Linked DNA regions of Homo sapiens: region 2 is linked to region 1. Evidence: fine-mapped expression QTL. A gene starts in region 1. The other region holds a variant in brackets. All regions are shown on one strand. Distances are between the middles of the regions.

The links.
Region 2: its variant is fine-mapped to the expression of CLYBL-AS1 in hippocampus (GTEx, PIP 0.99).

What each region holds. Positions count from the first base shown.
Region 1 is chr13:99,725,779-99,734,111 of GRCh38, reverse strand. It overlaps CLYBL-AS1 (CLYBL antisense RNA 1), which reads left to right and starts at 5,111. Exons shown (of 3, transcript NR_120383.1): 1 at 5,111-5,191; 2 at 6,620-6,882; 3 at 8,077-8,333. The region is part of intron 1 of CLYBL (citramalyl-CoA lyase); the gene reads right to left. RefSeq lists enhancers at 2,852-3,768, 3,769-4,686.
Region 2 is chr13:100,670,661-100,678,993 of GRCh38, reverse strand. It overlaps TMTC4 (transmembrane O-mannosyltransferase targeting cadherins 4), which reads left to right and starts at 4,199. Exons shown (of 19, transcript NM_032813.5): 1 at 4,199-4,250. RefSeq lists enhancers at 3,529-3,608, 4,934-5,823 and silencers at 3,799-4,298, 4,329-4,688, 4,739-4,818. The variant G/C (reference allele first, on the strand shown) is at 3,763.

The DNA.
Region 1 (8,333 bases):
ATCAGAAATCCCACTAACAGAGAAGGGTTATTTTTCTTCTAAAAGATTAAGGATCATAGGTTTTCGTGCTTACTCAGATGGAACAAGAAAAGATTTTAACCTCTGCCTCATTCAGTTTGGGTCTGAACAAAATAAAAGTCGAGCACATTCAAAACATCCATTAGAACTTTCTTCTTTCCTTAAGATGGTGAGACAACATCTGGTGAAAGATTTGGGGTTACGCTGCAGTCACTAACAGTCATGGGACAGAAAAGCTGAAAGCCCACCAAAAAACAGACAGGGAGATGGAAGCTGCACTGCTCCCCACCTTTCACATGGACAGATATTCTAGGTGAAGCGTCCTTGCCATTGTGAATTAAACTCCAGTTTAGCATCAAGCAGGACACATTAATTCCAGTTGTTCAGAAGGAACAGAGACGTGCGCATGGCTATTTTATAAGTGTCCAGAGGAGCATGGGCTGTTTCTTCTGAGGGAAGGAACCATATTTTCCAAATTAGTCCAAGGGGTAGTCGATGGGCGGAATGCCCATTTATCTACTTCGATAATGACCTGGTGTTCCTGATGACTAATAATGCCTTCAGGAAGTAGTTAAACACCACTATGTTGTATACTGGTGGTGCACAAGATAAAAAGCAAGGGAAATAGGCAAATGAGGAGAAAAAGGAAGTTCAGGCAATAATTTTGACAATAAAATGGAAAAAGTTTTAAGCATTCAAATTACGACGGGTTCATTCCAGCCTTACCAGCCCTCTCTGTCTACAGGGACAATTTTGGACAAGTCTGTTAATTTCCCTGGTAGAGTCAATTTCCTAGTAATTACAGTTTGTTTTTTTTTTTAAGTTCTGTTCTCTACTCATCTCTACTATATCTTACATTATTGGGATTATGAGATCTTAAAAGTTAATATAAATCTCTGATCACATTAACAAGACTGAACAGGGAGTAATCTTTGAGGAGGAAAAACAAAGACAAATAACTGATTTCAAGAGCCATGATTTTAGGAATTACTTTTTCTGCTGACTCCTGCACTATACTTGACACATAACAGATGCGAATTAAATATATACATGAATAAATAAATGCAAAAGCCAATTACCTTCAAATTAGCTTCATACAAATTCCCTTTCCTTAATCATACAGTATCATTAATAATTATTTGTAAAGCATTTTAAAAATTAGAAAAACAAGTAGAATTACCTATTTACTATTTACCTACAAACCAATGTGCTTCTGTTAATCATTCAAATGAAAAACACTGACACAGAAGTTTCAAAGAAAGCGGATGTATTTTTAAATATCTTTGGGTCAAGTGTAAAGTTATCCTGTCGAGACTGATGGGCAGGGAAAAGGTAATGAATGCCTCTTGTATTACAGCACAGTATTTTCATATTTTCATATCTTATTTTCATATCTTAACTCAATTTTTAAGCTGTCAAGATATTTGTAACACCTTGAGTTAATAGGTATGTTCCCTGAGATCAGAAACTGGCTACAGGTTTTAAAACTCATTTAAAATAGCAAAATTATAAAATAATGACCCATTATCACAATCCCCCTATCCACACAGCTTAAGATACACAGGAAACTGATTTCTCTCCGAAACCAAAGAAAGAAAAAACACCTTTAAAATAGGCCAGGCACAGTGGCTCACACCTGTAAGTGGCTAAGGAGGGAGGATTGCCTGAGCCTAGGAGTTTGAGACCAGCCTGGGCATCATGCTGAGACCCCATCTCTACGAAATATACAAAACTTAGCCGGGTGTGGTGGGATGTGCCTGTGGTCCCAGCTACTTGTTGGTGGGGGACGCTGAGGTGGAAGACTGATGGCTTGGGCCCGGGGAGGTTGAGGCTGCAGTGAATCGTGTTTGTGCCACTGCACTCCAGTATAGGTGACAAGGTGACAAGGTAAGACCCTGTCTCAAAAAAAAAAAAAAAAAAAAAACTGCCATATAATGCTGAAATTTCTAAAATAATTTGGTGTGGAAAATCACTAGTCTTTAAAGAACATAATGCATCCAGAAAAAAGAAACAGTAAGAAAGAAGGGAAAAAGAAAAAACAAACATAGCCCCAAGGAAAACAAAGCCCCAGCAGAATGTGCTGCAGCCATCCCAAGCCCCTGGTACCGTTCGTGCAGGGATGCCTGTATGCCCTGTGCTCCAAAGTATGTCACCACATCAGCCTCCAGGGGAGAAGCAATTAAAGGACAGTTCTCACTGCAGAACTGAAGCCCAGTTCCTGAGATACGAAAGCTAAGTGAAACCATTCTGGTGTGGAGTATGTTATTCAGTTTACTTCTTGGCTAGAAACAAAGAGGTTAAAATTGAGAACACAGGATTCTTCACATCAGGAGATGTCCGAGGCCCTTCCTTCCTCCCTCCCCATCCAGGGGTCCACTGTCCATGTGGCCCCAGCACGTCCGTGAGAGCCATCCTGCTAACACCTATCTACCCTCCGCCTCTGTCTACTCTGACTTTGAAACTAATGTATGGCCTTCTTTATCATCTAGCACAGCTTAAACAGTGGCCAATGTCTCTGTTCTGCTGGTGAAACCATCAGTAAGTTTTATTTCAATGCTTTGAGGCATTCTTTGGCCTTTTTTTTTTTTTTAATATAAGCAGCTGCAGTCTTTTATTTATTTTTGTAGAGACAGAGTCTTGCTATGTTACTTAGGCTGATCTCAAACTCCTGGCCTCAAGTAATCCTCCCACCATGGCCTCCCAAAGTGCTGGGATTACAGGTATGAGCCCCTGGGCTCAGCCGCTTTTTTTTTTTTTTCTTAAAGCAGGCTAAGATAGACATATATTCTGCAACTAGACTTTGTGCTTTAGTAAAGAAACAAAAGTAATTTCAACTTTTAAAGAAGGCTTTGCTACTTCAATTTTGACCATACAACTTTTCTGTCCATGTTTATTTTTCTTTATACAGTGCAATCTGCCGAAATCTGGTCTATATTAACAAAGTACAACAAAACCAGGACCCCTCCTCTCCTCTCCAAGCCCCCGCCTTTTTTTTTTTTTTTTTTTTTTTTGAAACAGAGTCTCACTCTGTCACCCAGGCTGGAGCGCAGTGGCACGATCTCGGCTCACAGCAACCTCAGCCCCCGGGGCTCAAGTGATTCTCCTGCCTCAGCCTCCTGAGTTGCTGGGACTACAGGCATCTGCCACCACGCCCAGCTAATTTTTGTATTTTTAGTAGAGAAGGGGTTTCACCATGTTGTCCAGGCTGGTCTCAAACTCCTGACCTCAGGTGATCCACCTGCCTCGGCCTCCCAAAGTGCTAGGATTACAGGCGTGAGCCACCGTGCCTGGCCCAAGCCCCTACTCTTTAGGGGAAAGAATGGGGAGGCCGTTCCGTGTGTTTAGCAGGATGGTCGGCACTGCCTCTGGGGCTCCCTCCCTGGTCCTGTGTCCATGCTCCTCCCGCCAAGACTCCAGGCGTGGTCCCCTCTGGCCTTCAGCTCCTGTCTATCATCTTGGGCGGCTCTGCTGCTCCCTGAGCCTCTGGAGTCCTCTGCTCAGAGGCTCCACTGTCCCCAGGCTCACCCCATCTCCATACCCGGAGGGAGCCACCTTGCCCTTCCTCTTCGCCTGGCATGGCCTGTCTTGAGGAAAGCTGGAAGGGAAAGTGCTGCCAGGAGCTGTTCTGTATTCTCACTAAGAGGCCAGTCAGCCAGGACGCCCAAAGCTTTCTGCTCTCCCCGTGACTCGCTCCAGCCACCTGGGCAGTGCTGGGCTGCCCCCATGAGCGTGCTGCACCTCCCCTGGGCCTGACAGGTCCTCAGTGCACTTGCAGGCTGTGGTGGTGATTGGTTCTGCCACACGTGTTAGTCAAAGTTTAAAAGGAAGATCCAGATACCAAAGGAGTACATGGATGCAGAAAAGTGAGGCCTCAGCTGCCTAACCAAGAGGCTGGTTTCCTGAGTGTCCTGGGTGCACCTTGAGATCTATGGCCACTGTGACAAGGCCTTGGAAAGATCAGCAGCTCCAACAGTGGCCAGCCATCCTCCAGCCAGCAACTGGGTCGCAGCACTGGCCACGCTGACGTGGGGCCAACGGTGGTGGAGGCACCGGCCACGCTGATGTGGGACCAACGGTGGTAGGGGGGCACCGGCAATGCTGATGAGGGACTGACGGTGGTGGGGGCATGGGCAATGCTGATGAGGGACCGACGGTGGCAGGTGCACCAGCAATGCTGACACAGTACCAATGGTGGTGGAGGCACCAGCCACACTGAAGCGGTGCCGAGGCTGGCGGGGGGAAGGGCCCCACTGCCACAGGGCCGACGGTGGCAGGGGGTAGTGGCACCAGGGAGTCAGGAGAACACATAAGGAATACTCAAGTGCAGGCTGAAAGTGGTCCAGGATTCCATCTTCCTCTTTCTCCTTTATTCCTAAACTTTATCAGTAGAAGACCATCATTTGCTAATTGACAGAGAAAGGAAAAGAATTTTTCAGTGACTGCCAGTGCCTTGTCAACAGGCCGATGGCTGGCTGCGCTTTCCGCAGTCCCCTCTGGAGGGTGGAGAGCAGTGATGATGAGTCTCCGGCCTCACTTTCCCGCCTCCCATTTACACACACTTCTAAAGCCCACCAAACCCCTAAGATATTTAGCCCGAAGCAGATCCAAAGGCACACATCTTACTGACCAGATGAAACCATGCCTCAGAGATACATTTATCTCTGGCTGCCACCACCTCCAACCACCATTCCCTATGTCTTTTCCTTCAGCATAGCTGATACTCAAGCAGATGACTGACAAAGGAGCCCAATCTAAAGGGCTGCTGAAGGAAGGTTTGGAGGGCCTTTTGGCTAAGATCACATGTATGTTATCCCCATATAAATGGCCAAGTACATCTGTTGGTCACCGACAATGTGTCAGGCATAACACAGCACAAAGATACTCTCTCCCCTCTTTAGGCCTCACACTTTTAAAAGACAAGAGAAACAGTCCAGATCATTCTTTTCAGTACTATTTGTTTCCAGCTGAAGATGAGAGAGATCTTTTAACACAGCCCTTCATCCTGATCTCTGGGAAGGAGACAATTGGATGGCCCTGGCCATTCTGCTTTCTCTGGTTCCCATAGCAAGGCCCTGCAGAACTTCTAGAACACAATTATGAGGAAAGAAGCTCTCAGCATTCCAAAGCAGAAGGAACAACTGTCTTGAATATGTCGAAAATTGCTGTCTTTAAGGTATTAAGGAAGGACCCAGTTTATATTTACTGGGGTGGGGCTGGGCATGGTGGCTCATGCCTCTAATCCCAGAACTTTGGGAGGCTGAGGTGGGAGGCTTCTTTGAGCCCAGGAGTTTGAGACCAGCCTGGGCAACATAATGAGACTCCATCTCTACAAAAACAAAACAAAACAAAACAAAAAAGCACACAGTAGCCAGGCATGGTGGTGCACAACTGTGGTCCCAGCTACGTGCGAGGACTGCTTGAGCCCTGGAGGTTGAGGCTGCAGTGAGGCGTGATTGCACCACTGCACTTCAGCCTGGGTAACACAGTGAGACCCTGTCTCTATTAAAAAGAAAAAAAAAAAAAGAAGTTGGCTCATACCTGTAATCCCAGCACTCTGGGAGGCCGAGGGAGGCGGATCATGAGGTCAGGAGATCGAGAACATCCTGGCTAACACAGTGAAACCCCATCTCTACTAAAAATACAAAAAATTAGCCGGATGTGGTGGCACACACCCGTAGTCTCTGCTACTCGGGAGGCTGAGGCAGGATAATCGCTTGAACCCAGGAGACGGAGGTTGCAGTGAGCCGAAATCGTGCCACTGCACTCCAGCCTGGGCAAAAGAGTGAGACTCCATCTCAAAAAAAAAAAAAAAAGAAAAGAAAAGAAACATATGTATATTAAGTATTAATAAGTACCCAGTTTATATTTATTGGGGGAGGGGGCCAGTATGGTGGCTCACACCTGTAATCCCCCCCACCAAAACACAGAGCTTTGGGGAATACCCTCACAAAACTCATGAAAAGAAATATAATGGGATCTGTAATATTAATACTAATATTGTCTATATTTTTATTTTTTGAGACAGTTTTGCTCTGTTGCCCAGGCTGACATGCAGTGGCATGATCTCTGCTCACTGCAACCTCTGCCTCCCAGGTTCAAGCAATTCTCCTGCCTCAGTCTCTTGAGCAGCTGGGATTACAGAAGCCCACCGCCATGCCTGGCTAATTTTTGTATTTTTAGTAGAGACAGGATTTCACCATGTTGGCCAGGCTGGTCTGAAACTCCTGGCCTCAAGTGATCCGCCCACCTCGGCCTCTCAAAGTACTGGGACTACATGCATGAGCCACCGCACCCGGCAATACTGTCTTTAAGTAGAGACCAAAAGGTATCTATCATTCCCTGTCCTGAGATAGACAGGACAATGTTCTTCAGCTGGTGTTTACTGCATAGTGTTTACTCCCATACTGGCCACGGGAGAAATAACTAATTATATCTAGACAAACCCAGGTGTCTTGCTTGCCTGTCTCTCAAAGAAAATGGCTCATTTGCTAGATGGACTATTTTTGTTACTTCTTGGATACTAGATCTGACCTGAAGGAGGTTTGTTGGAGGCAGAGTGAAATGTGTTTGTGTTTATTCCTTTTTTTCTACTTGGTTGCAGCAGATGAAGCACCCAGAGGACCACAATCCTCGGATTTTATGAGAAGACCTTCTGCCCTGCCTGCCCTTTTGAGACCTTTATCTGAAAAGGAACCTGCAATCCTAGAAAAGAGGTGGAGGCAGGCTTGATTCAGTTAAGGAAGTTCTTTCTTCTCAGCAATTACCACGCCAATTCTGTGGAAAAGCAACATTTGGAAGACGAGAGAAATCCACTGTAGGAAGTATTAGAAATACCTGCAATTAGGCTTCAAACAAGCAAATGAGGCAGGTCTATTCCCCAGGCCTAACAAGTCTTTGAGGTATTGTGCACAGAAACAAAGTTTTTTTTTTTTTTTGAGATGAAGTCTTACTCTGTCACCCAGGCTGGAGTGCAGTGGCATTATCTCGGCTCACTGCAACCTCCGCCTCCCAGGTTCAAGTGATTCACCTGCCTCAGCCTCCCGAGTAGTTGGGATTTCAGGCGTGTGACACCATGCCTGTCTAATTTTTGAACTTTGAGTAGAGATGGGGTTTCACCAAGTTGTCCAGGCTGGTCTCGAACTCCTGACCTCAGGTGATCTGCCCGCCTCAGCCTCCCAAAGTGATGGGATTACAGGCGTGAGTCACTGTGCCCAGTCAAAACCAGGTTCTGATGTACATCCTTGCACGCCTTTTTTGTGGCACAGAGCAAGTGGTAACCAGGTAACTTCCCTGGCCCTCTGCATACATGAAGGAAATGAGAATGTAGGTGCCTGAGGCCCTACAGACACTACTGCCTTAGGGATAAGGGGCGGGGGAGGGGCGCTCATGGGGGGACGCACTGAGGGCCAGGCCTGTGCCAGCCGCTTTACATTATTCAGAGTTTAAGTCTCACACCGACCCCTGAGCTGCTGGCTCTTCCCTTTTCAGGGCAGGAAAAGTAAATGACGACAGCCTGTGTCCTCTCCATGACACCACTCTGCCTCCATGGAACCACTCTGCCCCCATGGATCTCTCCAGTTTTAAGTCTGGGGAAATCTATCAATCACACAATTTCAGTTAGCATTCCAAGAACTAGGGGAAGGCCCGAGTAATCTATTCAAAGACATGCTTCAGAAAGAACACACCGACCCCATGGAGAGTTAAACCTGATTACCAAGAAGCAGGATAGTTAGGTGTTTCCGCTATTTACATAATCATTGTAAATATAAGTTACAGACTAATTACAATGATAATTATGACAATGAGCCTGGCATGGAGGAAGAGTTTAATAAATAATATTTGATGAATGAATGAGTTCATCTTTGAGTTCTTAATCTCAAAACAGTACCAGAAAGAACAAATGAGAAGTCTAACACCTTATTAATTTGAAAATAATAATTTAAGAAAATTCTTATGATTGGCTATTAAACTTTTGGCAGAATAGCAGTAATTATCATAAAACATACTCTGAAATTAATTCTGAAATCTTGCCTTAATGTGTTTACATAAACATATTAGATGTATACATTCATGAAAATCAACCCATCTACACTCAACTGAAAAACAGATGCTTCAACTGGAGAAAAAGGGATTTTATCTCTCCATACCCAAAGCTATCTTAAATTAGGACTTTTAACCTGTTGCCTTCGTGCGCATGTGCAGTAGCTGGATTAACAGGAGAGAAAGCAACAGCCCAAGAACCGACCCTCCTGCATCAAATGAGTAAACCAAAAAGGAAAGGGGATTTACGCAAACACCACAATGCCTCCCCGGGA
Region 2 (8,333 bases), 940 kb before region 1:
CTCACTTCCTGCTGTGCTGCCCGGGTTCCTAACAAGCCATAGACAGGTACCCATCCGCGGCCCTGGAGAGTTGGAGACCTCTAAATTGGAGGTAGCCAGGTGTGATGGAGGAGGATAGGAGGGAGCGCTGCAGGTGCACCTGCACAGCCCAGGATGCAAATGAGCTCAGAACACACCAGAGGATGCAAGAAGGCCAACATGGCTGGGGCCTAGGGAATGCAGGAGAGAGAGGCATGAGATGACTCAGGAGCAGCAGGCAAGCAGCCTGATCATGCTGTGGCATTGCAGATCATGAAAGATTGAGGCCTTCAATCTAAGAGTACTGGGAAGCAGGAGCCCACCAAGAGGGGCCGTGTGGGGGCAAGCCACCCTGAAGGCAGGAAATAAGGTGTGCATTGTCTATAGAGAGTTGACAATAATAAAACTGACTAGGCCAGGCGTGGTGGCTCGCACCTGTAATCCCACCATTTTACGACGTCGAGGCGGGTGGATCACCTGAGGTCAGGAGTTCGAGACCAGCCTGGCCAACCTGGTGAAACCCCGTCTCTACTAAAAATACAAAAATTAGCTGGGCATGGTGGTGGGTGCCTGTAATCCCAGCTACTCGGGAGGCTGAGGCAGGAGAATCACTTGAACCTGGGAGGTGGAGGTTGCAGTGAGCTGAGATTGCACCATTGCACTCCAGCCTGGGCAACACAGCAAGTCTCCATCTCTTTGATAAACCTGACAAAAACAAGCAATGTGGAAAGGATTCCCTATTTAATAAATGGTGCTGGGAAAACTGGCTAGCCATATGTAGAAAGCTGAAACTGGATCCCTTCCTTACACCTTATACAAAAAGTAACTCAAGATGGATTAAAGACTTAAATGTTAGACCTAAAACCATAAAAACCCTGGAAGAAAACCTAGGCAATACCATTCAGGACATAGGCATGGGCAAGGACTTCATGTCTAAAACACCAAAAGCAATGGCAACAAAAGCCAAAATTGACAAATGGGATCTAATTAAACTAAAGAGTTTCTGCACAGCAAAAGAACCTATCATCAGAGTGAACAGGCAACCTACAGAATGGGAGAAAATGTTTGCAATCTACCCATCTGGCAAAGGGCTAATATCCAGAATCTTCGAAGAACTTAATTTACAAGAAAAAAACAACCCCATCCAAAAGTGGGCAAAGGATATGAACAGACACTTCTCAAAAGAAGACATTTATGCAGCCAACAGACACATGAAAAAATGCTCATCATCACTGGCCATCAGAGAAATGCAAATCAAAACCACAATAAGATACCATCTCATGCCAGTTAGAATGGCTATCATTAAAAATTAAGGAAACAACAGATGCTGGAGAGGATGTGGAGAAACAGGAACGCTTTTATACTGTTGGTGGGAGTGTAAACTAGTTCAACCATTGTGGAAGACAGTGTGGCTATTCCTTAAGCATCCAGAACTAGAAATACCATTTGACCCAGCGATCCCATTACTGGGTATATACCCAAAGGATTATAACTCACACTACTATAAAGGCACATGCACACGTATGTTTATTGCAGCACTATTTAAAATAGCAAAGACTTGGAACCAACCCAAATGTCCATCAGCGATAGACTGGATTAATAAACTGTGGCACATATACATCATGGAATACTATGCAGCCATAAAAAAGGATGAGTTCATGTCCTTTGCAGGGACATGGATGAAGCTGCAAACCATCATTCTGAGCAAAGCATCACAAGGACAGAAAACCAAACACCACATGTTCTCACTCATAGGTGGGACTTGAACAATGAGAACACATGGACACAGGGTGGGGAACCTCACGCACCCACACCGGGGCCTGTCAGGGGGTGGGGTGCTGGGGGAGGGATAGCATTAGGAGAAATACCTAATGTAAATGACAACTTGATGGGTGCAGCAAACCAACATGGCACATACATACCTATGTAACAAACCTGCACGTTCTGCACATGTACCCTAGAACTTAAAAGTATAAAAAAAAAAACTGACTAAAATCTCATCTGCTTTTTATTTCCACCTATATATACAACCATATGTGTGTTATAAATGTTTCTGATATAAAGGATGTGTAATAAACAATACACAAGTAAAAGGCAGACACTCTTTATTGTCAGTTCTATCTACTTGACTGATTCTCACAGAAAGCTTTGCTTCTTTTTTGCCAAAGGCTTGTATCTGAATCCATCCAATGCTTGTAACTCAACCATGATGTGACTAGTGAAATTACATACCGATCCACTTTTTGCCAACAAATTTATTGTCCTTAAATCTGATATGTGATCTGTTAAACTACTTCTTACCCTTGTATAAACTCATTAAACTGCAATCTTGTTTCAGCACTAAACACATTTTTAAGTTTAATCTACATTATTAACATCTTCCCCATCACTTTCTGAAGTCTAGAGACAATCAGCAAAACAAATCGATCCCTGATTCATGATTCATAATGTTGGCTAATTTCCATGGTGTAAATACTTCGACCATGGCCCATTACAGTCTACCAACGAGACATCACTGAGTGTGGGCCGGGAAAACGCACGTGCAGTAAGCACATTATGATACGTAATACTGGAAATGGTAGGAAGTGGACAGACTTCAGAGTTATTTAGGAAGTAGAATCTTGGCGATTTGTTAGATGCCGAGGTGAAGGCAGAGTTTGGGAAACACTGGATAGTGGTGTCTTCACTATCACAGGGAGACAGGGAGTTGAAAGCAAGCAGGGAAAGGACGCATTCAGTTTTGGATGGGTTCCATTTGAGGTGCTTGTTACCAGGAGTAGCTGAATAGGAAGCTAGATAAACGGATTTGGAGCTCAGAGGAGCAAAGATTAGAGTTGCAAATTTGGGATATATTGATTTAAATGTTGACAGCAGGTTAAATCATTCAGGGAAAAATTGTGGAGTAAGAGGAAAGGTCTGAGACCTTGAAAACTCTGTTATTTGGTGGTCACCCAGAGTAGACAAGCACGCCAAGACTGGGGACAGACAGGAAAGTGGAGCACCCCCGCCACAGGAAGACGTGTTTTAAGGAGAAAGAAGGAATTTTGCTCAGATCAGTTAACACGAGAAAGGAGAGTGTCCTTTGACTTTAGTGATGTGGATGCTACTTGCGACAATTAAAAAGGCAATTTCACCGAGTGTGAAAACGAACACGTGGAGTTGAGAGACCACAAAACTGGGGGCAGGCGCCTCTTTCACCAACTTCAGCGATGGAAAGTAGAAGAGGGTGGCAGCAAGGGTACGTGGAGTAGAGAATCTTGGAATGATGAAATGCCGAGGATACGGATTCCAGTCCAGAGGGAGCAACGGATCGGATTCTGCGATACTGGAAAAACAGAAGGTGGGGGGGGGGGCTCGGTGATGGAGGGAGCAGGTGTGCAGTTTTGCCGGTGGAAAGTGGAAGTTTCTCTTTTCTCCTGAAGCAGGCGGCAAAGACCTCTGAGAGTGGGAGTGTGGTGGGTGTGCCGGGCCCCTGGATGGGAGTGGAGGTTTGGAACCAAGTGGCCCGAGCCTGCGGTGAGTGGGCCCGCCCTGGGTGGCTCTGGCCGCAGCAGGGTCGATGGGGCGGCATGGTCTCGGCGGGAAGAACACGGCTTCAGTCAGTTCTGTTCTAAGAAGCAGAAGGTGGAGATACGCATGTTTTAAACAACTCCTCCCGGACAGGAAGAAGTGGAGTTCTGGCTGTTCTGCGAGGACGCCGCAGTCCCAGCGTGGAGACCACCGCGCAGGCGAAGCGCGAGACAG[G/C]CCAGAAATAGGGTCCCGCGCGCGGACCCCGGAGGAAAAGCGAGGGCTCACTCGGTTTCCCGCAGCCAGCCTCGCCCGACCCAGCTGGGGCCGCCCCTTCCCGCCCCGGCCCCGCCTCCGCCTCAGCTCCGCGCCCACAACCCGGCTTCCTCCTCTCCCGCCGGGTCCGTCTGTCCCTGCGCCTCCTTCGCCGCCGACTAGCGCCCCCTGGCCTGACGTCACCGGCGCGTCCGCCAATGAGCTGAGGAGGGACTTGGCTGTGGCCTGAAAGTGACGGGAGCAGCAGCCAATGGTCGGGCGGAGGGGGCGGGCCGAGACTGGTGCTGGGGGGCGCCCGCGCGCGTGGGGAGCTGCGGGAGGCGCGGCGCGGGGGGGGTCGGGTGCGCGGCGGGCGGCCCCTCCCCCTGCCAGGTCCGGGCGGGTGCCTGGAGCCGCCAGAGTTTCCGCACCCGGGAGGGAGATGCGGCCGGGGCTCAGGCTCCTTGCAGGTAACGCGCGGGGCGGCCCCTGCAGGGCCGAGCGCGCCGCGGGGCGAGCGGAGTTGGACGCGGAGCGGGCGCGGGTTCCCCGCTGCCGCCGTGTCCCGAGCCCCGCACGGCGGCCCGGGCCAGAGCGGCGCTGCTGGAGGAGTTGGTTCCGGGACCTGAGCTGCGGCCCGGGCCGGGGTCACGGGGGACGCGGGCCCCTGTGTGAGCCGCACATGGGACAAAGGGCGCGGCGTGGAGGCTGCGCGCCCCGCCCGCCGCGCTCGGGCCCCTGAGCTTCTCCGCCCGGGCAGAGGTCGCCGCCCCCAGCCCCTGCCTGCACAGCCGCGCCGGCGCTCCCTCGGCCCGGGCGCACCCGGCGCCTGCGGCGCGTCCCCGGAGCGGCCATCTGGCCGCGGGGCCCCGCGCCTGGCCGCCAGCTGGCCGCGGCGCAGGCGATGGCTGGACACAGCCGGGCCGCTTGGCCGCCTGCCCTGGGTTCCGCGGCGGCTCCCCCGCCGCGCCGCGAGCGCCTGCTACTCCACGCTCGGCTGCGGAGCGGAGCGGCGCGAGCGCGGGGCCACCGGCCCGGGCGCCCGGGGCCACCGAGCCGCCGCTTCCCGGCGTGGGCTCGGAGTTTGGGGAAGCCGAGCAGGTGGCGCAGCCACTGCCCACCTCCTGCGAACTCTGCGGGGCTTCTGGTCTTGTTGATGTTGTGGCTATGGGCTGCGTGTGTGTTTTTCTTTTTTTTAAACCACACACAAAAGAAGGGAGGAGTTAGAGGAACGATCTAGCCACTATGAGTCATCCCACACTTCGCTCTTTCCCCGGGAGAGCAAATAAATGCATGGGGAGAATGTCTTGAGAAACAGTTATAGTAGGGACTGACTAGGTCCCCTCCCTGTCCCTTTTCTCTGCAGTCCTGTCTGCGCCGGGCGCGCCCCAGATGGAGTGGGGTAAAATCACGGCCAGTGCACCTAGATAGGGGAAATGGCTACAAGCTAGCAAACTGGAAACTTTCTGGGACAGTGGAACTGTGAATATCAAACCACACACATTCTTGCTATAGGCAGCCATGGCCCTCGTGCGCTACTGAATTATAAAATGGGAAGGCCGTCACAGCAGGACGATACCTTAGCCTTCAGTAGCATGTATTCAGCACTGCACGGAGGAGGGCGGTGGTGGTGGCTCGCGCCCCTGCCTTGAGGGGCCCAGGGTCTGATCAGTCAGGAAACTGCCAGGCCCAGGGATGCAGGGTCACAAACGATTGTGTTCTCTAATCTGATTCCCAGAGGCGCTGTCACCTCTCAGCGTGCATAGGATGGCTGGCTATGTGATTGAATGTTACAGATGAGGTAGAAAGGCTGGGCAGAGGTCAGCAGGCCCCTGGATGCATGGAGGGGAATATTCTTCTGTAGGTGGCTGCTGCTAATTTTTCCAAGGGGAAACATTTAGGTTTGGTCTCGCCATTCTGTTTACCGCAGTCCAGGCTGCCGTGTCAGCTGTCATTGGGCCCTCATGGTTCACAGCTGGATGACATTTGTTTTTCTGGGGTCCCTGTGTGGGGTCTTTTTGGCCTTCTCACTGATGATTAATTTGTTTTAACCTCCTGAAAACAGAGGCTCGATATGAGAAGTTTGAGAAATTGTAGGATAAAGGGACGTCTGCTTTGTTCCAGATTCAGCCCCTGTTGAGGGGCCAGTTGATTCTGTCGCAGGAGTCAGGTAGCGAGCAGAACACTGACTTCATTCCTCCTGGGTTGTGCCCTCTGCTTGGCCTGTAGCAGAGGCCACAGTGGGTCTCTCTTTTTGTTGCTTCATAAGGTGAACTAACGATCCAGCTATGGCAGAGGAGCCAGGGAGCCCAGGCAGGACATCATGTGGAGAAGAGGGACCAGAAAGTTCAACCTAGGGCCCATCTGGAAGAAAACAGAGCATCCTTTCCTATTTCATGTCCTGACTGTAAAAAATGGTGGAGGCCGGGCACGGTGGTTCACACCTGTAATCCCCATGCTTTGGAAGGCTGAGGCAGGAGGATCGCTTGAAGCCAGGAGTTTGATTCCAGCCTGGGCAACATAGTGAGACCCTGTCTCTACAAAAAAATATTTAAAATAGCCAGGCATGGTGGCATATGCCTATAGTCCCAGCTACTTGGGAGGCTGAGGTGGAAGGGTCCCTTGAGCCCAGTAAGGTGAAGCTGTGGTGAGCTATGATCATACCACTATACTCCAGCCTGGGTGGCAGAGTGAAACCCTGTTCAAAAAAAGGGGGGAAGGGATGTAGAGAGGGTGGTCCCCCGTCTCTGCCACCTTGCTCAGACAGGGCTTCTTTTAACTGAGTGCCAGGCCTGGCTCAGGTCATTGAGGAACAGAAGTCGTTTAGTGTTGGAGGAAGGAGAGTTGGGAACAAGGTCACTGTGCATGGTTGTACAGTTTGTGCCAGACACCTGACCAAGGAAGCCATGTGCCCCGGGTCTGCCCAAAAGAAGGGCCCGCCTTTCTCAGTCGCACCAGGTCACCCGATGGGCTACTGCTGGCCCTAGTGCTCAGCCCATCTGCAGGAATAAACACTGGCAACATGGGTGCGCCCGAGACAGGCAGTCAGGGACTGGGAAGCAGCGGCTAATTTCTCCAAAATCTAACAATAATGAGAACTAGTTGTTTGCATACATTTTCTCCTTTAATCCTTACCACCACCTTCTGAAGAAAGTGGTGGTGGTACTGTGTTGTGCCAGTGAGGAAATTGATTCTTAGAAAGACTAAGCAGTTCAAGGTCGTGCAGCCGGCAAGTCCAGGTTTGTCCGTCACCAGAGCCTTTGGTCTCAACCACTGGACTAGACTGATCACTTTGCCTGGCTTTCTAACAAATTGTAGCTTTTTTTTTTTTTTTTTTGCGTTTGCTAGTGAAAGGCATTTTCCAAACTGTTCCACTATGTACGTTAACAGTAAATCCCTTCAAAGAAAAGAGCATTTGTGAGTATTTTCAGTGGCAGCAAAGAAGTGGGAGGCCTTGGAGAAAGGAGAAGGAGCCCCCTGAGATAGAGAAGCAGGGGAGTCACAGCAAGGAGGGGAGAGCCAGCCAGAACTGGGAAATGATGTAGGGGCAGGGGCGTTGGAGGTAGGCCAGGTTTCCTGCTGTCCCTGCAAGAGCAGAGGAGGAGATCATCTGAGATCCACTGAGTCAGCCATCCACTTGACTTCCCAAGAGTCTGGACCTGGCCTCCTACCAGGGCATCTCGTTGATGGTGTGGTCCACAGTCTGCCTTATATATCCTGGGGCTGTGGCTTGGAACATGATTATGCTTAGAACATATTGCTTAGAACACGTTTATGTTCTAAGCAATCTGAGGTACAGTCGCTAATTTAGGAGCACAAAGTATTTCCTGATTTAGTATTCTACTTAGAAGGCCATTTGAACCTTGACAAACGTTTGTGAAATAATTTTCAAATATTTGAGCCTGAAGCAGATAATATCCAGGCTCAGTGGCACACTCCTATAGTCCCAGCTACTTGGGAGACCGAGGCAGGAGGGTTACTTGTGCCCAAAAGTTGAAGCTAGTCTGGGCAACATAGCAAGACGCCATCTCCAAAAATATATTGCATGAGCCAATAAATTCACTATTGAAACAATAAAACAGATAACGTCAAAACCGGTTACATGACCTTTTGTCAGCTCATGACTCTATTGTGCATTTAAAATTGCTATAAATTATTTGTTTTCCTTCACATTTAATTTTCTAAAATTTCTCCCCATGTTAAATCATAGTATCTTCCTAACTATTCAGTATTTGGCTTTGTTGGGCTTTGTTGTTGTTTGAGACAGGGTCTCACTCTGTTGCCCATGCTGTAGAGCCGAGGTGTGATCTCAGCTCACTGCAGCCTGGAACTCCTGGGCTCAAGCAATACTCGCACCTCTCAGTCTCCTGAGTAGCTGGGACTGCAGGCATACGCCTCCACACTCAGCTAATTTTTGTATTTTTTTTTGTAGACACGGGGTTTCACCTTGTTGCCCAGGCTGGTCTCGAACCTCTGGGCTCAAGCCATCCACCGGCCTCGGCCTCCCAAAGTGCTGGGATTACAGGCGTGAGCCATTGCAACCAGCCTTGATT